7 linked regions of the Homo sapiens genome follow. The protein of the gene in region 3 purifies or fractionates together with the protein of the main gene of each other region. This does not show direct contact. Each region holds a gene or a part of one and is shown on either strand. Other genes may lie near its edges.

Evidence for each region.
Region 1: the proteins of GIP (region 3) and GNPAT purify together in Homo sapiens (affinity purification with mass spectrometry; one large-scale study listed by BioGRID and IntAct). This does not show direct contact.
Region 2: the proteins of GIP (region 3) and CFAP410 purify together in Homo sapiens (affinity purification with mass spectrometry; one large-scale study listed by BioGRID and IntAct). This does not show direct contact.
Region 4: the proteins of GIP (region 3) and ARSK purify together in Homo sapiens (affinity purification with mass spectrometry; one large-scale study listed by BioGRID and IntAct). This does not show direct contact.
Region 5: the proteins of GIP (region 3) and STK26 purify together in Homo sapiens (affinity purification with mass spectrometry; one large-scale study listed by BioGRID and IntAct). This does not show direct contact.
Region 6: the proteins of GIP (region 3) and TTC4 purify together in Homo sapiens (affinity purification with mass spectrometry; one large-scale study listed by BioGRID and IntAct). This does not show direct contact.
Region 7: the proteins of GIP (region 3) and OLFM2 purify together in Homo sapiens (affinity purification with mass spectrometry; one large-scale study listed by BioGRID and IntAct). This does not show direct contact.

What each region holds. Positions count from the first base shown.
Region 1 is NC_000001.11:231,261,712-231,265,211, reverse strand, and holds part of GNPAT (dihydroxyacetone phosphate acyltransferase), read right to left. Parts: intron 2,490-3,500; coding exon 2,360-2,489; intron 1-2,359. UniProt on the Homo sapiens protein: Dihydroxyacetonephosphate acyltransferase catalyzing the first step in the biosynthesis of plasmalogens, a subset of phospholipids that differ from other glycerolipids by having an alkyl chain attached through a vinyl ether linkage at the sn-1 position of the glycerol backbone, and which unique physical properties have an impact on various aspects of cell signaling and membrane biology.
Region 2 is NC_000021.9:44,332,891-44,336,390, reverse strand, and holds part of CFAP410 (nuclear encoded mitochondrial protein C21orf2), read left to right. Parts: intron 1-586; coding exon 587-633; exon of another isoform or gene 634-3,128; coding exon 3,129-3,358; intron 3,359-3,500. UniProt on the Homo sapiens protein: Plays a role in cilia formation and/or maintenance. Plays a role in the regulation of cell morphology and cytoskeletal organization. Involved in DNA damage repair.
Region 3 is NC_000017.11:48,962,097-48,965,596, reverse strand, and holds part of GIP (gastric inhibitory polypeptide preproprotein), read left to right. Parts: intron 1-1,116; coding exon 1,117-1,287; intron 1,288-3,500. UniProt on the Homo sapiens protein: Potent stimulator of insulin secretion and relatively poor inhibitor of gastric acid secretion.
Region 4 is NC_000005.10:95,561,601-95,565,100, reverse strand, and holds part of ARSK (arylsulfatase K precursor), read right to left. Parts: intron 1-3,500. UniProt on the Homo sapiens protein: Catalyzes the hydrolysis of pseudosubstrates such as p-nitrocatechol sulfate and p-nitrophenyl sulfate. Catalyzes the hydrolysis of the 2-sulfate groups of the 2-O-sulfo-D-glucuronate residues of chondroitin sulfate, heparin and heparitin sulfate.
Region 5 is NC_000023.11:132,064,802-132,068,301, forward strand, and holds part of STK26 (serine/threonine-protein kinase 26), read left to right. Parts: intron 1-3,413; coding exon 3,414-3,500. UniProt on the Homo sapiens protein: Serine/threonine-protein kinase that acts as a mediator of cell growth. Modulates apoptosis. In association with STK24 negatively regulates Golgi reorientation in polarized cell migration upon RHO activation.
Region 6 is NC_000001.11:54,732,861-54,736,360, reverse strand, and holds part of TTC4 (tetratricopeptide repeat protein 4), read right to left. Parts: intron 2,733-3,500; coding exon 2,651-2,732; intron 1-2,650.
Region 7 is NC_000019.10:9,856,516-9,860,015, reverse strand, and holds part of OLFM2 (noelin-2 isoform 2 precursor), read left to right. Parts: intron 1-1,840; exon of another isoform or gene 1,841-1,919; intron 1,920-2,154; coding exon 2,155-2,301; intron 2,302-2,533; coding exon 2,534-2,753; intron 2,754-3,102; coding exon 3,103-3,209; intron 3,210-3,500. UniProt on the Homo sapiens protein: Involved in transforming growth factor beta (TGF-beta)-induced smooth muscle differentiation.

The sequences.
Region 1 (3,500 bases), on a different chromosome or scaffold from region 3:
TTATATTTTATTATTTTATTTTATGAGACAGGGTCTCGCTATGTTGGCTAGGTTGGTCACAAACTTCCTGGCCTCAAGCAGTCCTCCTGCCTCGGCCTCCCAAAGTACTGGGATTACAGGCATAAGCCACTGTGCCTGGCCTAAACTCAAACATTATTAAGAAAGATTTCATAAATGTAAGACACCCCTATGATATTATTATACTTTGACATTAAAATACATAAGAGATACCTAATAGAATTATAGAAAAGAAGGGATTCTGTGGGCCAGGTGCTCACTGGGAGGTTACCTTGTGCTTCTCCATGCACCACTCCCTTTACAAGTAGGCCAGCTAGAGCCAGGGGCAACAGCAGAGCAACATGACAATGTCATGATGTCAATGTCTTTAGTCAGCCATGCTGCTGAGCCTGACAACAGACCAATATGTGCCCTTCATGCTCTGGACAGCCAGGCCAAACCCGCTCTCATCTTTTGCCTACCAGGAAAAAACATCAACCTACTTTTGTTGGAAGAGATTAAATAAGGCAAATCTTGTAAGAAAGGAAGATTGCTACCAGCAGTTTTAAAATAGTCTTTCTCTTCATTTCCCCTAGTTTTCAAATAACTTCCTCACAAGTTTGTTCAGATGAAAATGCTTTTAAAGTGCTTAAGTTCTTGGCAGTTTTAACCTTACCATTCACTGCATTTATTAACAAACGTGTATACTTGAATCCTGGCTTTCCTGGCTACCCTAAAAGGGAGTGGATAAACAACTTATATGCCTTAGCAATCCCACTTTTAGGAATCGATCTTACAGGAATAAAAGCACCAATATAAAAATGTATTATGACATTGTTTATAACAGCAAAACTACTAAATTATGAAATATCCACACTGCTGAATATTATATGGCTATTAAAATTAATGTTAGACATGAAGTTGGACCCTTAACTTACACCATATACAAAAATTAACTCAAAAAACCAAAGATCTTAATGTAAGACCTGAAACCATAAAACTCTTAGGATAAAACATAAGGGAAAAGCTTCATGACCTCGGATTTGGCAATGATTTCTTCGATCTGATACCAAAAGCACAGGGAACCAGGGAACCAAAGAAACAAATAGATCAATTGGACTACATCAATTAAAAACTTCCATGCATCAAATAACACAATCAACAGAGTGAAAAGGTAACCCATGAAATGGAAGATAATATTTGCAAATCATCTGTCTGATAAGGGGTGAATATCCAGGATGTAGAAACAATTCCTACAACTCAACAAAAAAAGCCCCAAACAACCTAATTAAAAAATAACGGACTTGAACAGACATTTCTCCAAAGATATACAAATGGCCAATAAGCACACAAAAAAGATGCTCAGCATCACTAATCATTAGGGAAATGCAAATCAAAACTACAAGGAGATACCACTTCACACTCATTAAAATTATTATAAAACATATCAGAAAATAACAGGTGTTGGCAAGGATGTAGAACAACTGGAACTCTTGTGCACTTTTGGTGGGAATGTAAAATGGTGCAGCTGCTAAGGAAGGCAGTATGGTGGTTCCTCAAAAAATGAAAAAAAATTACCACAAGACCCAGCAATTCCATATATACCATTTTTGTATATATATAAAAAAATGGAAAGCAGGGTCTTGAGCAGATGCATTTCCAACTTCAAAAAGGAAGGAAATTCTGACACATGCTGCAACATGGATGAACCTTGAGGGCATTCTGTTAAGTGAAATATGCCAGTCACAAAAGGACAAGTACTGTATGATTCCACCTATATCAAGCATCTAGAGTAGTTCACAGAGACAGAAAGTAGAATGCTGATTGCCCAGGGTCAGGGGGAGGGTAGAACGGGGAGTGTGTTGAATGGGTACCATTTCAGTTTTGCAAGATGAAGAGTTCTGGAGATGGATGGTGTTGATAGCAGCACAACAATGTAAATGTACTTAATGCCACTGAACTATATTTTTGAAGATGACTTAGATGGCAAATTTGATGTTATATGTATTTTATCACAATTAAAAATAAACTTTAAAAAGTTAGATCTATTTATTGCCTAGAGAGGTAGCCATTAATATATTATCAAATAAAAAAAGCAAAAGGCAGCTAATACCTGTAAGTAGTGCAGTCTCATTTTTTAAGCCTACACCAAAGAACCCTGTGTGCATGAACTCCTGCAGATGTCTGTTCAGGCACAGTAAAGCACAGGACAAAGGACATAACTCAAGTTATTCAGTGCTAGGACTGGAAGAAAGGAGGAGAGGCTATTTTCATCATCATCTTCAAATACCTCAGTACTGCTAGAATATGCCAGTGAACTTTTTAATTTTTACAGTTAAAAAAACAGAAAAACAATACATACCCATTCCTGCTGCTATAACTGGCACAGGCAAATCATAATTGTATAGAAGAAAAGACAACATGAGGAAGTCAATGTAACTTCGATGACTAGGCAGCAGAACAACAGGATGCTCCTGGATGGCTCTTTGTAGCTTGAAAGTAAATGTTACATTTTGAATAATTTCAGTTGTCATGTTATCAAATCACATCTCAAATCAGAAAACGGAAGAATAAGTCTATATTTAGAGGGAATACCCATCCTCTTTTTCTGCCTTTTTGCCATACACATAAACGATTTGCTCTGATAAGGTAAAAGTACTGTTTCTAGTTAAACAATTTCACATAATGCAAGAATATTAAAAATGTAAATTTTTATGGATCAGAATAATAACAGTGATGATCGCTAACATATATTAGTTGGGCACTATATTAGCATCATTTTATATACAGTTATCTTACGTGCTTTGTTTAATACCACATAATTAACAAGGTCTAAGCCTTAGCTTTCTTGTTTGTAAAATGGTCATGCATCCAATAAATGGCAGAGCTGTGAATGGAACCCAAGTCAGTCTGACTTAAAAAGCCAACTGTTAACCACTGTATTGAATTGGTTGGTTGTAGTAAGAGAAAACAAAGCTTCTCTTGGAGAGATTAAAAAAAATCTACAAATTCATAGGACAAGGTGAGAAGAATGGTATTTCTCTATGTGCTGGACTCACTGCCAGGGTGAATGGGTGTCATGTGGCTGGGAGGGATAATTTGAGTTTCCAAATATACTCCTCAGGCCATCAATCTCAAGATTCACTGGTATCCATGTGTTATCTGTTTTTTTGAAATCTAAATGTAACAGAGGCCAGGTAATCTGTGATCATCACTTAAGAAATGGCTCACCACCACCCTTGGTCCCAAACACTGTAACATTCTCTGACAGATTCAGGGTATAAGTCAGCAATCTCGAAAACAGTCAGTAGGAAGAAGAAATATTTGACAGGAAAGTAAATGACTGAATTAAAACAAAATATTAAAAGGGATGAGGAGGAAGGCAAGTGAAGTTAAGAGCTTTCCTAGAAGAAAAAAATATAAAACACAAATAAGTAAAAATACTCTTCATAAGGAAAGCTCTTTATGAAATTAGAAAAGTCATCATTTGGCAATCATTAACA
Region 2 (3,500 bases), on a different chromosome or scaffold from region 3:
CCCTGCGTAGGGGACATTGGGGTCCCCTTACCTGATGTCCTTTGAGGGCATCTAAAGTAATGAATGCTCTGTCTCCACTGCTGGCAGCATCTGACAGCAACGATGCTGTCGTAAAATTTAATAAAGACAGAGTGCGTGCAAGGAGGAGCCTCACATTTCTCCTTCAGTCTGCGGGGCGTCTGGGCTGCAAGGTGGTGTCAGAGGAGAACCTGGCATACTCGTGGGCATTCATCCTGGGCACACTGGCTGAGCAGGGCCGCTCCCCTCAGGCCCTGGGCATTCACCCTGGGCACACTGGCTGAGCAGGGCCGCTCCCCTCAGGCCCTGGGCATTCACCCTGGGCACACTGGCTGAGCAGGGCCGCTCCCCTCAGGCCCTGGGCATTCACCCTGGGCACACTGGCTGAGCAGGGCCGCTCCCCTCAGGCCCTGGGCATTCACCCTGGGCACACTGGCTGAGTAAGGCCGTGCCCCTCAGGCCCCGGAAGTGGGTTGGCCGTGGCTTCGACAGTTCTCTGTGGCTGATGGCAGTGCGGCCGCGATGCCCTGCTGTGCCATGCTTGCTAGTCATGTTCTTTTCCTCCTAGATCTCCATTTGCCAGGAGATGCCCAGCCTGGAGGTGATCACGCTCAGGTACCTCGCTCCTGCTGTCATGCTCAGCCTGGGGCCTGGAAGCCGGGGCAGAGCCTCACGTCCCTCCAGTGGGACCCAGCACTGTGACATAACCTGGAAACCTCCAACACAGACTGAGGGCGGCTTCCAGAAGGGGAGGGGCCGGGACAGCGAGAGCTGGGCCTACCCTGTGGCCCCCATGTTCAGCCCTCCTTCCTCAGAGCCTCACCTGGGCCTCCTGATGGCTCCTGTCCCCTGCCTGCCCTGCTGTACGCCTGCCCACCCTTGGCCTGTGTGCTCCGATAAGCCATTGCTGTGTTCACTGGGCCAGTCGGTGGTGGAGCCCTCCTAAGGATTCACGGTGGCCCGCCCTGGCCGCCCCCACGGTGGCCACATCTGCCCTGGGACCCCCAGAGTCCTGGCCTCTTCTGCCCCCCAGTGCCACCACTGCCTACCAGTTTCTCTGCACCCCATGACCTGTGCCCGTCTTCTGGGGTCACTGCCCTCCCAGCAGACTAAGGGAAGCTTGAATGAACAAATGTTACTGGACTTTCAGGCAGTTGGGGTGTATTTGGGGGCTCTGGGGAAGAGAAGAGCTCCCTTTATCCCTGAATTCCCTCCTGCCTACTGTGGGACCCACGGAGGGAGCAGACGCTCATGGCTCACCACTGCCCACCAGACGCTGGATGGGCGCCTTCTGTGGGTTTCCGCATTTAAAAGCTCACAAGGGTTTAAACCCTGTGGGGAAGGCCCACCCCTCTGGCAGCTCAGAAGTCTCTAGGGCTTGCCCTCTGAGAGTGGGTATTGCAGGCCCCTGGTCCCTGACTGTGACCTACCTTCTTGATCTCACAGGCAGCCACGGGGTAGGCCAGCCCCTGCCCATCCTCCGTAATGCCCTCTGAGGTTGGCATTGCCATGTTGATGCCCGTGCCCAGCCTGCTGCCCGCCATGGGCTGAGGCCAGTCCATCTGGTGTTCAGGCATCCCCAGCGCGGGCACCAGCCTGTCCTGCCCGAGCCTTGCTGAATGAATGAAATGGGCTTGGAGGCATGCTCATGGGTCAAATCTCAGCCCTCCCATCTATTGGCTGGCTAACCTTGGGCGAGGCATGGCCCTCTCTGTGCCTCAGTTTCCTTTCTGTAACATGGAGGTATTACAAGTGCCCACCCCACAGGGAGATGAGGAGGAGATGGAGCCCGAGTCCAGAGGTTGAGCAGGGGTGCGCGTGCCCGCCCAGAGGTTGAGCGGGGGGGGGGGGGGGGTGCGCGTGCCCGCCCAGAGGTTGAGGGGGGGTGCGCGTGCCTGCCGCGGGGCTCGTTTCACTAGTCAGGCGACACAGTGAGGCTGGGATTTCAGGCCTGCCTCCGAAAGGCTTACCTGACAGGGAAACGTGGAGCTTGTGGTTCCCACGGTGGCAGGAAGCTTGGGGCGGGGCTGTGGATCCAGCCCTATCCCTGCCGCTCACTGAGTCACCCAGGGGCCACAGGGCCTCCGAGCATCAGGCCGCTCGTGTGTGGGGCCATTTCTGTCACATCTCGGGAGGGACAGGACCCCAGGGGTGTTGACCGAGCTCAGGTGCGTGGTGCCTGCACGCCTGACTGCACTGGAGCGGAGCAGGAAGCCTCGAGGCCGCGGACGCGGTCGGTACATCACGCTGCTGCCTGTGCCTGAGGCAGACCCCATCCTGGAAAGAGTCCCACAGCCGGAGTTTTGCTCTTGGTAAAATGGGGCGGCCTCATAGCTAGGAGCTGCATGAGACCTGGGAAACCCCGAGTGAAGGGATGGCATGGGGAGGGGGGCTCAGGACGGCAGGCTGCCCATGGGGGCCTGGTGACCGCCCTTCTGAGGCGCCTGCCGGACGCGAGTGCAGCCCTCCAGGCAGGGGGCCCTGGCTCCGCGCCTTTGAGGGCCTGCGGGAGCGGCTCCGCGTGTTCGCTTGTGGAGGGGACGGACCCCACGCTGCAGGGTAAAGCCTGCAGGTCCCCGCTCCAGGCCTGCTGTTTCTCTTCTCTGACGCGTCCACGTTCTGTAGAATGGAAATGAGGCCCATCCCCAGTGTTGCCGCCCTCAAGTGGGGGTTTGGAAGGTCCGTGCTCACTCCCATGTCACGTGGAGCTGGCTCCTAGTTTTTGCCATGAGTTTTTCTGGCCGCTCCCTGCTTTGGGGCAACATGATATGTCCCCTGAGAGGCCTTAATTTTCCTCACCTGTGAAGGAGGGCCACATCCCCCACCTCCCGCACTCTAGCGCCCTGAGGAGCTGATGTGGAGCGTCGGGCCAAGGGGCTGTTGCTGGTGGGGTCCACCCCAGTCCGCCTTTGAGTTCAGGGCCTGGCCTTCCTACAGCTCTCTCCTCGGCCCAGGTCCTGCTGCACGTGACTTGTGACATCCGATTTAGGCTTCTCAGGAGAGGGCAGGGACACAGGTCCCATGAGTGCCTTTTACTGGGGGTGGGGATTGAGAGGTGGCCCTGGGGGCCCTGGCCACGTCCCTCGCTGACTGTGCTGGTCTCCGTGCAGTGTCAACAGCATCTCCACCCTGGAGCCTGTGAGCCGGTGCCAGCGCCTGAGTGAGCTGTACCTGCGGAGGAACCGCATCCCCAGCCTGGCTGAGCTCTTCTACCTGAAGGGGCTGCCGCGTCTGCGGGTGCTGTGGCTGGCCGAGAACCCGTGCTGCGGCACCAGCCCCCACCGCTACCGCATGACCGTGCTGCGCACCCTGCCGCGCCTACAGAAGCTGGACAACCAGGGTAGGTGGCCGCAGCGGAGTCACCGGCCCTCCCAAAACAATCCCTGGAAGGGGATGTCCCCAGCCCTCTTTTCTCTTCTCCTTTTCTGCAAATACCTGGTCTGGCGGGACATAGATGTGTCCTGTGAAGTCTCCTCCAGAGG
Region 3 (3,500 bases):
GTCTCCCTTTGTCACCTAGGCTGGAGTGCAGTGGCGCGATCTCCGATTACTGCAAGCAGCGCCTCCTGGGTTCACGCCATTCTCCTGCCTCAGCCTCCCAAGTAGCTGGGACTACAGGCGCCTGCCACCACGCCTGGCTAATTTTTTTGTATTTTTAGTAGAGACGGGGTTTCACCATGTTAGCCAGGATGGTCTCAATCTCCTGACTTTGTGATCCACCCACCTTGGCCTCCCAGAGTGCTGGGATTACAGGCGTGAGCCACCGCACCCAGCCTTTTTTTTTTTTTTTTTTATTGAGACGAAGTTTTGCTCTTGTTCCCCAGGCTGGAGTGCAATGGCACGATTTCAGCTCACTGCAACCTCCACCTCCCAGGTTCAAGTGATTCTCCTGCCTCAGCCTCCTGAGTAGCTGGGATTACAGGCATGTGCCACCACGCCTGGCTAATTTTTTTTTTTTTGAGACGGAGTCTCGCTCTGTCTCCCAGGCTGGAGTGCACTGGCGCAATCTCAGCTCACTGCAAGCTCCGCCTCCCGGGTTCACGCCATTCTCCTGCCTCAGCCTCCCGAGTAGCCGGGGCTACAGGCGCCCACCACCATGCCTGGCTAATTTTTTGTATTTTTAGTAGAGACGGGGTTTCACTGTGTTAGCCAGGATGGTCTCGATCTCCTGACCTTGTAATCCGCCCGCCTCAGCCTCCCAAAGTGCTGGGATTACAGGCGTAAGCCACCACGCCCTGCCAACGCCTGGCTAATTTTTGTATTATTAGTAGAGACGGGATTTCTCCATGTTGGTCAGGCTGGTCTCGATCCCGACCTCAGGTGATCCGCCTGCCTTGGCCTCCCAAAGTGTTGGGATTACAGGCATGAGCCACCGCCCCTGGCCCCGTGATCTCTTTTTGCCCAGAATCCAGAGCCACACACACTGAGGCTGCAGGAAGTGGGCCCTGGAGCTGAGGATAAAGCCTGGGGTGGGGTGGGGGAGTGGATCCACAGGGAGTCTCCATAAAAACGGACTGGTTTGTTTTCAAGTGTCTGCCTCCTGTTAGTGACAGTCATTTACCCTAGCATTGTGATTCTCCCCCCATCTCTGCCCCTTCTCCGCACCCTTGTTTCCAGCGCTCTCCCCTCCCTGCCTGTTGGATCTCATGCTAAGGTGAGCAGCCCTCAACCTCGAGGCCCCAGGTACGCGGAAGGGACTTTCATCAGTGACTACAGTATTGCCATGGACAAGATTCACCAACAAGACTTTGTGAACTGGCTGCTGGCCCAAAAGGGGAAGAAGAATGAGTGAGTCGCTGCTTACACTCCTCCTGTTCCCTGTGCCGGGCTCTGCCTTCCTACCTTCAGAGGAGGCCACCGGCTGTGGCCACACAGGCCACATGATGCACAACCCCAGGTGGCACCTTTCTTTTTCTTTTCTTTTTTTTTTTTTTTTTTGAGATGGAGTCTCACTCTTTCGCCCAGGCTGGAGTGCAGTGGCGCGATCTCGGCTCACTGCAAGCTCCGCCTCCCGGGTTCACGCCATTCTCCTGCCTCAGCCTCCTGAGTAGCTGGGACTACAGGCAACTGCCACCATGCCCGGCTAATTTTTTTTTTTTTTTGTATTTTCAGTAGATACGGGGTTTCACCGTGTTAGCTAGGATGGTCTCGATCTGACCTCGTGATCCACCTGCCTCGGCCTCCCAAGTGCTGGGATTACAGGCGTGAGCCACCATACCCCGCCTCTCTCTCTCTTTTTTTTTTTTTTTTTTTTTTGAGACAGAGTTTTGCTCTTGTTGCCCAGGCTGGAGTGCAATGGCGCAATCTTTGCTCACTACAACCTCCACCCTCCACCTCCTGGATTCAAGCGATTCTCCTGCCTCAGCCTCCCGAGTAGCTAGGATTACAGGCATGTGCCACCACGCCTGGCTAATTTTGTATTTTTTTGTTGTTCTTTTGAGACGAAGTCTAGCTCTGTTGCCCAGGCTGGAGTGCAGTGGCTCGATCTTGGCTCACTGCAACTTCCACCTCCTGGGTTCAAGCGATTCTTCTGCCTCAGCCTCCTGAGTAGCTGGGACTACAGGTACGCGCCACCATACCTGGCTAATTTTTTTTTTTTTTTTCAGTAGAGACAGGGTTTCACCATGTTGACCAGTCTGGTTCTCAAACTCCTGACCTCGTGATCCGCCCACCTCAGCCTCCCAAAGTGCTGGGATTACAGGCATAAGCCACTGCGCCTGGCCTAATTTTGTATTTTTAGTAGAGACGGGGTTCCATGTTGGTCAGGCAGGTCTCGAACTCCTGACCTCAGGTGATCCACCTGCCTTGGCCTCCCAAAGTGCTGGGATTACAGGTGTGAGCCACCACACCCAGCCTGGGTGGCACCTTTCACCAGGCAAGGATGGGGAGTCAGACATGGTAGCTCTGGCCAGGACCCTGACTTGGGCACCAGTCTAGGCTAGGGGTAGGGACCAGGGCTATTCCCTAATCCTTTACTTCTTTTTTTTTGAGACGGATTTTTTTTGCTCTGTCACCCAGGCTGGAGTGCAGTGGCACAATCTTGGCTCACTGCAAGCTCCGCCTCCCGGGTTCACGTCATTCTCCTGCCTCAGCCTCCTGAGTAGCTGGGACTACAGGTGCCCGCCACCATGCACGGATAATTTTTTTGCATTTTTTTAGTAGAGACGGGGCTTCACCGTGTTGGCCTGGATGGTCTCGATCTCCTGACCTCGTGATCTGCCCTCCTCGGCCTCCCAAAGTGCTGGGATTACAAGTGTGAGCCACTGTGTTGGCCCTAATCCTTTACTTCAAAGGGGAGGAGTCAGAAGATGTATGGGAGCTCAGAGAGGATCCCCAGGGGTCTGAGGATGAAGCAAGGGAGAGACGAGCTCCTTCTAATGACTGCTTGCTTGGCGGTGGCCACTTTAGACTTTGAAAACAGGATTGGCTAGGGCCAGGCCCAGTAGCTCACACCTGTAATCCCAGCACTTTGGGAGGCTGAGGCGGGCAAATCACGAGGTCAGGAGCTTGAGGCCCTCCTGGCCAACATGGTGAAATCCCGTCTCTACTAAAAATACAAAGATTAGCTGGGTGTGGTGGCACGTGCCTGTAATTCCAGCTACTCGGGAGGCTGAGGCATGAGAATTGCTTGAACCCTGGAGGCGGACGTTGCAGTGAGCTGAGATTGCACCACTGCACCCCAGCCTGGCAACAGAGCGAGACTCCGTCTCAAAGAAAAAGGAAAGAAAATAGGATTGGCTGTTCATGGTGGCTCACACCTGTAATCCCAGCACTTTGGGAGGCCCAGGTAGGTGGATTGTTTGAGCTCACGAGTTCATTCGAGAACAGCCTGGGCAACATGGCAAACAAAAAGTACAAAAATCAGCTGGGTGTGGTGATGCCTGCCTGTAGTTTCAGCTACTCGGGAGGCTGAGATGGGAAGATGGCTTCAGCCTGGGAGGCAGAGGTTGCAGTGAGCTGAGATGGTGCCCCTGCACTCCAGCCTGGGCAATACAGCCAGA
Region 4 (3,500 bases), on a different chromosome or scaffold from region 3:
TTTCAACATAATTATAAATAAATTCCAGTTTAGAACATGAGCCAACCCAAAATATAGAATATATCTAAATCCTTGAGATAGCTGAGATTCCCAAATAGAGATATAAAGTAGGCTGTTGGATACAGATAGGAATCTGGAGTTGAGAGAAGTCTATCTTGGCGAAATAAAACTTGGGAGTATTTAACATATTCATGGTTTTGAAAACTGTGAGATTAAATAAAACCTTTCAGGGAGAGAGAAGGAGGGGAAAGAAAAGGGTCTAGAGGAAGCTATAAGGAGTCCCAAATAAGAGGGGAAACAGCATGGGAAACTGAGAAAGAATGGCCAAGGGAGGAAGATGTGAGGAGACCGAGTGCCATGACAGCTGAGAGAAGGCAGTGTGCCAAGAAAGAGGTAACATCTGCTGTGTTGAGAATGCACCTGAAATGAGGCCAGAAAATGCACATTGGAATTGGCAGTATGGAGACAGCTGGTGACCCTGACAAGAGCACTTTCGATGCGTGGTAAAGATGAACAGCTAAACTGGAAAGGGGAAGGAATGGGAGGCAGGAAAGTGAGGCAGCAGGGGGAAAAAAGAAAAGCTCTTCTGAGAAGTTATTTTGCAAAGCAAAACAGAAAAACGGGAGGGATGTTAGAGAATGGTGTGTTAGCTGGAAGAAAATGTGGGATTAAAGTCAGTTCTTTTTTTAAGATGGGGAAAATTATGCATGTCTTATGTCAAAATAAATTACCACTTCTAGCAAGAGTAATCATTGAATGCTAAGCAAATAACTACTGATTTCCTCAATGATGAGCTAGAAAGGCGAAGACAAAAGTGCATAGTGGCCAGGCACAGTGGCTCATGCCTGTAATCCCAGCTCTTTGGGAGGCTGAGGCAGGCAGATCACCTGAGGTCAGGAGTTCAAAGCCAGTCAGGCCAACATGGTGAAACCTTGTCTCTACTAAAAATACAAAAATTAGCTAGGCGTGGTGGCAGGTGCCTGTGATCCCAGCTACTCGGGAGGCTGAGGCAAGAGAATCACTTGAATCCGGGAAGCAGAGGTTGCAGTGAGCTGAGATGGCGCCACTGCACTCCAGCATGAGTGACAGAGCAAGACTCCATCTCAAAAAAAAAAAAAAAAAAAAAAGTGCATAGCCCTCCCTCATGAGAATTTCTTTAAGCCCTTAAATTCAAATTCTCAGAAATTTATCCTCACAAATTCCAAATGTATATATGTCTTATGGTTACAATCTTTTGAACATGGGGAGATAACAATTTGTGGCCACTGCCTAGAATCTAGACAACCCAGGCTTATCTGGTTGGGGGATGGAGCAGAAGGTCACAAGGTAGAACTGTCTTAAAGGTGCTATATAATTCACATATTGGGATTTGGACTCCAAGTCCTGCAGGCTAGGTTCAAATTGGTGTAACTACCACTGCAAATGACTACTGCAGCATATCAATAACTAATGTGTCAGATTAAAATCGATGTTAGTGATTTCTTGACTCATCTCTATGACTAGTACAGGGACATTATCTGTATCAAAAGCAGGCTGGAAAGCAGGACTCTTTGAAATATAGTGGCAGAGATAACCAGAAAGGGAGGGGGCGACTGCCGTCATGTGGGAAAGTTCCCAACGATTCCATCAGTGAAAGGTGATCTATGTTAAGATTGCTGTCTGAGATATATATAAGGCAGTGAGCGGTATGCAAATATTCAGTGAATGAAATGAAATGAATCTCTAATCCAGAGATTTGTTCAATTTAAAAAAGAAGACAAATTTATGCTCAAAATTCAACAGTGTATTTTTGCAAAGCTTAATAAACTGGATTAAGCATATCAATTGCAAAATTTGGTTCCTAGGAAATATTTAAATTATGATATACATATTCTCAATATCAGAAATATCAATAATACTCTAAACGAAGACCAAAATGTTATTAGAGAAAATATTTAAAAATTTTCTAGAAGTTTTGGTTTTTGACTTCATGTAGTTTTTACACACTAACAAATCATTTAAAAACTAGGCTACTACTAGTACTGCTGATAATGGTATCAATGGGAGACGGTCAGTAGAATATTTCATTCTGAACTGAAAGGCATCTTAACACAGCTGGCTGATGAAAAAGAGAGAAAGTAAGTTTTCCATAGTATGTTAATGTGGTTTACAATGGATAGCCAGTTATAAGTGAAAACACAGTTCTGTCAAATTTAGTTGGCAGAGAAAATCTTGAAAAATGGCTTTTGTTATAACTTCTATAACTTACTAATAGCCCATTTCAATTTTCTCAAGGCCATTCCTATGGTTCAAACAAATTAAGCACTCTAAAATTGGGCATTTAAGAAATAAAAATGACCCATTAATTGGCTTTCTGCAAAAGTTACAGAAATGGTACCAACTGCCTTTAGTTGCTGCATTCTGCTCTTGTTAATTAATTCTCATGGGTCCACACATTTTTCCCCCTTGGGGTGGGTAAGTCTTTTTGTAGATACAATTTTGTGATTTTGATTGCTCCTTCTGAACCATGGCTTGTACTCGGTTCCTTATCATTATGGGCCATGCAGAATCAGAGAAGTTTAGGTTTGAATTAATCATCCTAATAAAAGAATGTAACAGCAACTTTAATTTGCCATGTCAGCATGGCAAGACTGCTTATAGTGTTCTTCCCAGATCTGTCCATCAGACTGAATGAGATTCTCACTAGACTCTCTAGTAAACACTCCTGTACCTACTCTCCCCTGCCACTCCTGAAACCTCAGCAAAACTAAAACTGATACAGGTGCAGTGGCAGGGAGTAGAGGTAGGAGTAGGAGTGGGGATGCAGAAGATGCCTCTGTCCTTTAAGACCCAGGCAGAGATGCTTCTTTTCTATTATTTATTTAATTTTAAATTTTTATTTATTTTTTTTGAGACAGAGACTCACCCTGTCACCAAGGCTGGAGTCCAGTGGCACAATCTCGGTTCACTGCAACCTCTGTATTCTAGGTTTAAGCGATTCTCCTGACTCAGCCTCCCGAGTAGCTGGGCAGGTGCCCACCACCATGCCTGGCTAATTTTTGTATTCTTAGTAGAGATGGGGTTTCACCATGTTGGCCAGGCTGGTCTCGAACTTCTGACCTCAGGTGATCTGCTCGCCGTGGCTTCCCAAAGTGCTGGTATTACAGGTGTGAACCACCGTGCCTAGCCTGTTTTCTGTTCTTTTAAAAATGGGTTTATTAAGATATAATTAACACACTAAACAACTCATCCATTTAAAGTGTACAATTCAATGGTTTTTAGTGTATTCAGAAAGCTGTGCAACCATTACCATAGTCGATTTTAGAATGTTCTCATCATCCCCAAAAGACATTCTGCACTCTTTAGCCATTACTCTCTATTTTCCTGAAGCCTAGGCAACCACTAACCTACTTTCCGGCTCTATGTTTGCTTTTTCTGGACATTTCATATGAATGGAATCATACAATATGTGGTCCTTTTTGACTAGCTTCTTTCATTTAGCATAATCTTTTTAAGTTTCA
Region 5 (3,500 bases), on a different chromosome or scaffold from region 3:
TTAAAATAATCAAGTAATATTTTAATTCTTATTTTTTTAGGTGGAGATGAGTTTTCCTAACTGAAAGTGATTAAATATTTTTAAAAGGCTTTAACCTTGACTGCCAGTAACTCAAAGCTTCAAATAATTTTATGAACAGAAATGACTATAAGAGATTTTCTTTCCTTTAGGCAGAACCATATTTAAACCATTTTAAAGAAATGGTAATTAAACTTGATGGAGAGCCTCATCTACTACTAGGAATTCATGTCAGTTTAATCAGTTGCTGAATTTGGTAATCTTTCCTTGTGTCTAATCTAATTCTTATATCCTAAAGCCTGAGTTCATTTTTTTTCTCTCGTCTCTAGTGAGAGAACACCACTGATGTTTCTTTGTGTAATAATCCTTCATGCATATGGAGTCAGGCTTCATTCTCCTCTTGAAGTTAAATGATCTCATTTCTATTTGTCTTGTCACAGAGTCATATTATTCAATAGTTTTTTCATTAGCTCTACAAGAAGCCTCTCAATTGTTTCATGATCCTCCTTCCATTTTTTGAATATTAAGAGCCCTTTCCAAATTTATCAGTTGTCTTATCTGGTTCCTCAGGGTGCTCACCATATCTCTTCCCCATTTTGGAAGCACTGGCAAAGCTAGGCCACTCTGTTCAACAGGATCACTGATAGCAATGTTAAACAGTGAACACTGGCCTAACCCCAACCAATGACCCAAATCTGTGTCCCCTATTAGTAGTTTGGTCAGTTTTATGAAATCTCCAAGTTAAATGATTGTGAGATCTTAATCTCATCCTGCTATTCTGAACTCTACTTAATAAAACAAATAGCCATTAATAACAGTTTCAATGAATGAAAAATGTTGTTAGTACTGTATTGGTTAAGAATCAAAAGGCCTAGGTCATAAACCCAGTGCTAACACTGACTGCCTGGCAAATATTGGGCGGCCCTTTAGCCTCCTTGTGTCTTAATTTATTCACATGTTAAATGAAGAAATTGAATCAGTAATCTCTAATTTTGTGTTCTTAGCTCTAAAATTCAATAATATTGTGATTTAATTATAAAACTCATTTAACTAGACTTTACAGGGAGAGCAGATAATGAGAAAATGTGCTATTCCTTTTTCATGTATATTCCTGTACAAATAAATGCTATCATTTGGGGGAATCTAAGACAGGATTAGGTGTAGAGGAAGGCTCTGCTACTAAGAACAAGAGGAAATAAGAGGGATGTTTAGCAGAGAGTGTTTCTCACATTAAACTGGTGCCTGGTACCTAACTAATGGAATAACATAAGATTACAACTTGTCATTTATGTTAACATTATACAGTGTCTACCTTGAGTCACTCCCATTCTTGAAAAACAATTTATTGTATGTGAGCAGACTTTGAGTATATTGCACATCATTTTATTGAGTTTATTATGCTCCACTTCTTTCCAAAAAGAATCGTGGTGGCTTGCAACAAAAACACATATAATAAGATGACTAGAATAAAACATGAGCCCCAAGAAAAAAGAAACAATATGCTAACCATAAGAGAGGGCATAAAATAGCAGACTGCATTAGGGACTGGCTGGAAGTTAAATTGTGACAAAGATCCATGAGCTCACAAATGTACAGTCTTCGAAAGAGTCAAGGTCCCTCTCTTGCATATTCTTACTTGACAACAGAGGCAAATTACACAAGGCAAGTACACTGCCCTGGGACAGAGATATTATCTGTTAGAGACATGGCAAGTTCTTCAGTTATCGGAGAAAAGTTCAAATGGAGAAGTCTCCCTGCCACAGAGTCTTTCTTCCCATCCTCCTCTAGCACCCAGTTAATTGAGATTTCACTTTTATTGAATTTTAACATGAACCTAAAATATAGCAGATAAGCTCATGAATCTTTGGGATCCCCTTTTTGTTGTTTTTACTTAAATATTTTTAAAAACTTCTGTATTAGGTAATATACTGGCTTATTTATGTTACTTTTACATGTCCTTCAGAATGATAGCTAGTAGGTCGTACATTAATCTTGCCCAATCACTGAAATAACCAAGGATATACCTCCCCTGGTCTTGCCAATGTCCTGTGATCAGATGATACTAATTACTGATCTTAAGTAGTGTGACATTTGTCCTTTAGTTATTTTGTAGTACCTCAGAAGTTCATTGCCAGCCATCAACAAAATAGTATGCCATTTTCAACCTTTCTAGAAGACTTTAGAAACTATTTTAATCACTACTGTTTGAATAGAAACTTTGGGGTGGAAGTTGATAGATTTGAAAGTAAGTAGATAATGTTACCTAGGAAAGGGACCTATTGAATTACAGATATCCCTGGAGTATACTATATACCCAGACCACAGTTAATATTAGATGGTGAGACCAAAGTATGAGTTCTATTTTAAGCTGTTAAATTTCAACATGAAAGTGCCCTTTATTCAGCATAAATATGGCATTCATGAAAGATGAAATACACAAGGTGCCAAAGAGCTGTGGATCCCTCCCAGTGTGAGGCAGAGTGGGCAATGTTTGATTTTCACCACCTCTTCCCTCCTTCCAGAAGCAAACAGAACTCTACCTCTGCTCTGACTTTAGATTCCCACCCTTTCCTGTAATAATATTGTACAGTCCACTGTTTGTGCTTTATGAGGTACCAGAATTTTAAAATAACCATTTATTTTAAAGAGGGATTTTCAGATATTCCATTACAAGTTCTCCTGAAACCTAATCATTGCTTTCCTTGTATTCCAGTTGGAACTATTGGCTTTGGTACAGGGATGGGGAAATAAAGGGATATGTGTTACATTTATTTGAAAAACATTATCCCTCCATGATTTAATTTTTTTTTACCATCATAGTCTGAATAGTTTAATTATTATATTCTTGGCTAAATTTACAATTTGAGTCTCAAAAAGGCTATTCTTTGCAATATTATTAAAATACATAAATGCTGACTGATATGATCAAATAGTTGCTGTGGAAATCTTATGGATTCTCTGACCTAAAAATCAGTTTCGTGTCAATATGTAGTAACTTTTTCACAGCAATTGCCTGAATTTAAGTAGCTGATTTCTCTTTTTTTCCATCTAAAGAACAGATAGTTGGTTCTGTCATTACGTAAGCATATTTGTTTCATCTTTGATGTAAATATTCAGGAACCTCAGAATTTGAAGCCTAGTATATAGGTAAAAGGGCTCGTATTATCTTTCATTAAATTGAATCATTAAAAAACCTGTTCAGCCCTTTGACTGAACTCTTTTGCTTTCTTCCTTCACATTTTACATTTTTCCTTCCTTGTTTAGATATTGGTTTGATAAACAGAACGGCATCATGTGTCTAAGTGATTTCTTCATTTCAAAGGTACCAATTTTGAATTTTATGTTTCCAAACTTTTACACATATGTGTATGTGTGTGTGTGTTTTTCCCCTTAAGCTTCGAGCTGGTCCATTTGATGAGTTCCAGATTGCTACCATGCTAAAGGAAATTTTAAAAGGTCTGGACTATCTGCATTCAGAAAAG
Region 6 (3,500 bases), on a different chromosome or scaffold from region 3:
GAAGAAAGTCATTGTTACAAATATAGAAAGGGAGAAAAAATCCTGTGGATGTTGAATTAAGAGTTGGAGATACCAATGAGACTTCATGGTCTCTCTCTCTCTCTCTCCTCTCTCCTCTCTTCTCTCTCCTCTCCTCTTCTCTCTCTCTCTCTCTCTCTCTCTCTCTCTCTCTCTCTCTCTCTCTCCTTTCTTTCTTTCTCTCTCTTTCTCCCCCAAGCTGTGGCACTGAGAAGGCATTGAGGCAGTAAGCTTGCCTCTCTACCCCCATTGTATTAATCGATACACTTATACACTTATTGCACAGAGATCTCGGCTTCTAAATACCATTCTTCACTAGAAAGAACCAGGGCTTCTTGGGAAAAAATAGCTAATTCCAGAGCTGGGGCAAGGAAAGCGCAATCTGAACCTAGAACATCCTATGTAAGAAAGCAACCACTTAAAAAATAGACACAAGTCAAAAGGACACAGAAACAAATTTGAAGAGATTCCCACTGGCCAAATCTGGGATATTCTGAGCATAAAAGAAACAATCATAGTAACAGATTAAAACTCATTAAATGAAACAGGAAACTATAAATCCACCAATATAAATAAATATGTTGAATATCTGACGAGCAATGGGATATTTACACCATTTCAAAGCATCTCCCTATAAAACACTTATTAATCATAAAGAAAAAGTAACTGTACAGTGGAGAAGGCTGGCAGACCCCACCTCAATCAGGTGATCAGAGTGAACATCATGAGTAATGGGACAAATGGAGATTATGTACCATCTGATAGGTGCAATGAGAATACAGCATCACTTCTGTAATATTCCAGCCAAATATGCATAATCCAGGCCGGGCATGGTGGCTCACACCTGTAATCCTAGCACTCTGGGAGGCCAAATCGGGCAGATCATTTGAGGTCAGGAGTTTGAGACCAGCCTGGCCAACACGGCAAAACCCCATCTCTATTAAAAATACAAAAAATTAGCTGGGCGTGGTATCTGAGTAGCTGTAATCCCAGCTACTCAGGAGGCTGAGGCAGGAGAATCGCTTGGACCTTGGAGGCAGAGGCTGCAGTGAGCCGAGATCACACCATTGCACTTCAGCCTGGGCAACAAGAGCAAAACTCCATCTCAAAACAAACAAACAAGTATGTATAATCCAAATCTAGTCAGAAGGAAACATGAGACAAACCCATACTGACAGACATTCTACAAAATAAGTGGTCTGTAATCTTCAAAGTGTCCTGCAGTTGAGTCACAGGATCACAAAAATATGAATAAAAATTTTTTAAGTAAAAAAAAAAAGTGGAGGAAAGACTGAGGAGCTCTTCCATACTGAAGGAGACTAAGGGGACATGATCACTAAATACAGTATGTGATTCTGAACAAAACCCTTTTGCTATAAAGAATTTGTGAAACCTGAATGGAGTCTGAGGGTTAGATGGTAACAGTGAATTAATGTAAATTTCCTGCTTTGATAGCTATATGGGTATTATAAAGAAAAATGTCCTTTTGTGTAGGAAATACACAGTAAAGTATTCAGGGGTAATGGGACATCAGCTGGCATCCTACTCTCAAATGTTAGAAAAAGGTAATTCTTTATACTGGATATTGTGATTTTTTATTTAAAAAATCCCAACAATGGAATGTTATTCAGCCTTAAAAAGGAAAGAAATTCTGGCTGGGCACGGTAGCTCACACCTGTAATCCCAGCACTTCTGGAGGCCAAGGAGGGCGGATCACTTGAGGCCAGGAGTTCAAGACCAGCCTGGCCAACATAGCAAAACCCCATCTCTACTAAAAATACAAACAAAATTAGCCAGGCTTGGTGGCACATGCCTGTAATCCCAGCTACCTGGGAACCGGAGGCATGAAAATCACTTGAACCAAGAGGCAAGGTTGCAACGATCTGAGATTGCACCACAGCACTCCAGCCTAGGTGACAGAGCGAGATTCTGTCTCAAAAAATAAAAATAAATAAAAAGGAAAACAATTCTGGTTGGGCATGGTGGCTCACACCTATAATCCCAGCACTTTGAAAGGCGGAGGTGAGTGGATCACTTGAGGTCAGGAGTTCGAGACCAGCCTGGCCAACATGGTGAAACCCCATCTCTACTAAAAATACAAAACTTAGCTGGGTGTGGTGGCACGCGTCTATAATCCCAGCTACTCAGGAGGCTGAGGCAGGAGAATCGCTTGAACCTGGGAGGCAGAGGTTGCAGTGAGCCAAGATCGCACCACTGCACTCCAGCCTGGGTGAAACAGCGAGACTCCGTCTCAAAAATTTAAAAAAAAAAGGAAATTCTGACACATGATACAATATGTAATGAACCTTGAAGACATTATGCTAAGTGAAATAAGCCAGACATAAAAGGACAAATACTGTATGATTCCACTTATATGAAGTACTTAGAGTTTCAATTTGGGAAGATGAAAAAGTTTTGGAGATGGCTGGTGGTGATAGTTGCACAACAATGTGAATGTACTTAATGCCACTGACCTATATACCTAAAAATGGTTAAAATGGTAAATATTATGTCATGTATATTTTACTATAATTTTCAAAAAAATAAAGCAGACTGCTTCCCCCGCCGCAAAAAAAAAAAAAAAAAAAAAAAAAATTAATTCCATAGAGGAACGAAATAAAACTTCTCTTACCTCCAAATTATCAGGGCAATATTTTTGCTCTAGGTCCCAAGAGGGTGTTTCACCAAACATCACCATTAGATGATCAATAAACCTAAGGATAAAACATGTACTTTCTGGGTATCAATAACTCATGATCTATTTTCCCACATCGGTCCCCAGACACTAATTCAAAGTTATCTAGAATGTATAAAACATGAAATGCAGGCTTAACCCATTTGACAGCAGTACCCCAAATGTGTATATGTATCACTTGTCCTATTATGACATAATTTTATTTTATTTTATTTTATTTTTTTTTTTTGAGACAGGGTCTCGCTCTGTCACCCTGGCTAGAGTACAGTGGCATGATAACAGCTCACTGTAGCCTCGACTTCCGGGCTTAAGCAATTCCTCTACCTTAGCCTCCTGCATAGCTGAGACTACAGGCACATGCCACCATGCCTGGCTAATTTTTTTCTTTTTTTTGTAGAGATGGGGGTCTCCCTATATTGCCCAGGCTGGTCTCAAACTCCTGGGCTCAAATTATCCTCCTGCCTCAGCCTCCCAAAGTTATTGGGATTACAGGTGTGAGCCCTGCACCTGACTGACAGGATTTTCTTTTTTTCTTTTCTTTTCTTTTTTTTTTTGAGACAAAGTCTTGCTCTGTCACCAAGGCTGGAGTGTGGAGTACAGTGGAACAATCTCTGCTCACTGCAACCTTCACCTTCTGGGTTCAAGTGATTCTCGTGCCCCAGGCTCCCAGACAGCTGGGACTACAGGCATGCACCACCATGCCCGGCTAATTTTTTATATTTTTATTAGGCACGGGATTTTGCCATGTTTGCCAGGCTGGTCTTGAACTCCTGGCCTCTAGTGATCC
Region 7 (3,500 bases), on a different chromosome or scaffold from region 3:
CGTGTGCCACCACGCCCAGCTAATTTTTTTATTTTTAGCAGAGATGGGGTTTCACCATATTAGTCATGCTGGTCTTGAACTCCTGACTGCAGGTGATTTGCCTGTCTTGGCCTCCCAAAGTGCGGGGATTACAGGCGTGAGCCACTGCGCCCTGCCTGTTCAATGCTTTTTTGGGAGAGAAGCCAAGCACTTACTGGGATTGGGGTGGGGGGAAGGAAGGAAGACTGGAGGGGCAGCATCTGAGTCTCCTGTGTGTGAGCTCTGGTCCACCAGGCATGTCCCACCCAGCTTTGCAGTTCACCAGACTCACCTACTAAGAAGGAGTTCTGTGCCCCTTGGGGAGGGTCTAACCCTCCACCTCAAGAGGCTCCTATAAAAGTTTCCTTCTACCTCTGATCATGGTCAAGAGAAAATAGTCCCCTGGGCCGGGCGTGGTAGCTCACGCCTGTAATCCCAGCACTTTGGGAGGCTGAGGCATGTGTATCACTTGAGGTCAGGAGTTTGAGATCAGCCTCTACCAAAAATACAAAAATTAGCCGGGCGTGGTGGTGTGTGCCTGTAGTCCCACCTACTCGGGAGGCTGAGGCAGGAGAACTGCTTGAACCCGGGAGGTGGAGGTTGCAGTGAGCTGAGATGGCACCACTGCACTCCAGCCTGGGCAAGACAGAGCAAGACTCCATCTCAAATAAATAAATAAATAAATAAATAAAACTTACAAATTGTTGATTTCTGGAATTTCCCACTTAATATTTTTGGACTGTGGTTGGCCTCAGGTAGCTGAAACGTGAAACTGTGGAGAAGGGAAGAGTATGTAAAAATGTTTTGTGGCGTTCAGGGTGGGTATTAGGCTGCTGAGTTTCTGGGAGTTTCCAAGTGTCATGTGAATAATTGTACAGGAAAGTCTGTATTTCAACAAGCATCCAGTGGTAACTCTGACTGAGTTTACCTTAGCCAGGCAGAGTCCACTTTAGTCAGGTGAAGCTGGTGGGAATCTACCTTAGCCAGGTGAGAGTCTACCTTAGCCAGGTAAAGGTCTACCTTAGCCAGGTGAGGGTCTACCTTAGCCAGGTGAGGGTCTACCTTAGCCAGGTGTTCATCTTAGCCAAGTGAGAGTCTACCTTAACAAGGTGGGAGTCTACCTTAGCCAGGTGTTCACCTTAGCCAGCTGGAGTCTACCTTAGCCAGGTGAGAGTCTACTTAAGCCAGAGATGGAGTTCACCTTAACAAGGTGGCTACCTTAGCCAGATGTTCACCTTAGTCAGATGGGAGTCTACCTTAGCCAGGGGGAGTTCAACTTATCTAGGTGGAGTTCACCGTAGCCAGGTGGAGGTGGGAGCTGGGTGCTCTCAGGTTGGGTCAGGAGAGGCCAGGGCAAGGGAAGTTTATTTTACTCATTCAGCCAAAAAATACTTATTGGGCCTCTACTCCAGGCCAGTGCTGGGCACTGGAGGTTAAGCTGTGGACAAGCTAGACGCAGCCTCTGCCTCTGAGGGTCCCACCTGAAGGAGGCAGATGGATAAGAATGTTCTACATAGTCACAGCTGGGAAGGAAATGACCAGGCAAGAGGAGAGTGAGTGAGCGGCTACCGGACAGGGTGGTCAGGGAAGGATGCTTTGAGTGGGGGACGCTGGAGCTGAACCCTGAAGGATGAGAAGGAGCCAGCCATGGGAACTTGGGGGAACAGCACTCCAGGTAGAGAGACCAGCAAGTGCAAAGACCCTGCAGAAGGAAGGAGCTTAGAGTCTGTGAGAACAAAGAGAGAGGAAGTGGGTTGGGCGGGGGGGGTGGGCAGGACCAGCCAGCACAGGATCTGTGGAGGAGGAAGGTGATCTAATCTCTGTTTTGAAAGTTCCTTCTGTCTGCTGTGTAGAGAATTGACTACAGGGGATGAAGGTGGAACTGGGAGACTAGGGAGGAGGTGAGAGGTGGTGGTAGGTGGACCAGATGGGAGCCAGTGGGTAGTAGGGAGGGAGCGATGGATGGATGGATTGGGCACGCAATTGGGAGGCTGCTGGTAAGCTCAGGGGAGGAGAAGGTGGCCTCGTCGGTGTGGTGTTTGTACAGCCTCTGTTCCTGCCAGCTCTTGTCTGTGGCATCTCTGGGTTGGGATTTGGGGAAGGAGGTCTGGTCCCTTCAGTTGTCCCCATTCCTAGGTCCAGAACGTCTCCCAGTCCATGGAGGTCCTTGAGTTGCGGACGTATCGCGACCTCCAGTATGTACGCGGCATGGAGACCCTCATGCGGAGCCTGGATGCGCGGCTCCGGGCAGCTGATGGGTCCCTCTCGGCCAAGAGCTTCCAGGTGGGTCCTCCTGTGTCCAGACCAGAGGTCAAACAAATGACTGGGATTTGGTATCCATTAGTTCCTACAATGGAGTCATGTCTGGGAAGAATCTAGGGTCCAATATGAGCCACATGTCAAGGGCCAGGTGTGCATCAAAGACAAAGGGTGAAGTTATGAGTCAGAGGTTGGAGTCATGTCTGGGTCAAAGGCCAGGGGTCAGGCTTGGCCATGGTTCCATCTTGATGCACAGGAGCTGAAGGACAGGATGACGGAACTGTTGCCCCTGAGCTCGGTCCTGGAGCAGTACAAGGCAGACACGCGGACCATTGTACGCTTGCGGGAGGAGGTGAGGAATCTCTCCGGCAGTCTGGCGGCCATTCAGGAGGAGATGGGTGCCTACGGGTATGAGGACCTGCAGCAACGGGTGATGGCCCTGGAGGCCCGGCTCCACGCCTGCGCCCAGAAGCTGGGTATGCCTTGGCCCTTGACCCTGACCCCTGATCTCTGACTGCCACACCCAACTCCAGTATCACCTGTTTGTGCCTAGAAGCTGGACACAGTTTTGACCTCTAACTTTTAAACCTCAACCCTTGACCTTCCTACCTAAGGCTACACTTGAGTCCAGAAGCTGGAAATGGCCCTGACCCTTGGCCTCTAACCCCTCACTCACAACTGAACAACATATTGGGACCAGATTTTTGAGTCTTCCCTCATCCCTGGTCCCAGCTTTCCCAACTTGATCACAGCACTTCATCTTTGCCTGGCCTCTCTTGGGCTGTTCATTTCCCCATCCTCATTCCCCCTGTTCCTGCCTCCCAGGCTGTGGGAAGCTGACCGGGGTCAGTAACCCCATCACCGTTCGGGCCATGGGGTCCCGCTTCGGCTCCTGGATGACTGACACGATGGCCCCCAGTGCGGATAGCCGGGTGAGTGACTGCGCCCACCCCTGGGGTCAGGGCCTGGGAGGGACAGAGCCTTTGACTGCCCATAGGTGCCTAGGGAGTCCACACTGGTGACTGTCTTGTAGCCCAAAGTGTCCTGGATCCCCCAGGGCCATTGGACCTCCCTGTCCAGTAACCCCCAAGTGACCAAGGGCTTTGCAGCCTTGTGAATCCCACTCTGTTGACCTCCAGTGTCTGTATAGTGGCTAATGGTTACTGAGTTCTACTGACCAGTTCTCAGGGACTACTGACGTCCAAGTAACTACCCAATGACCA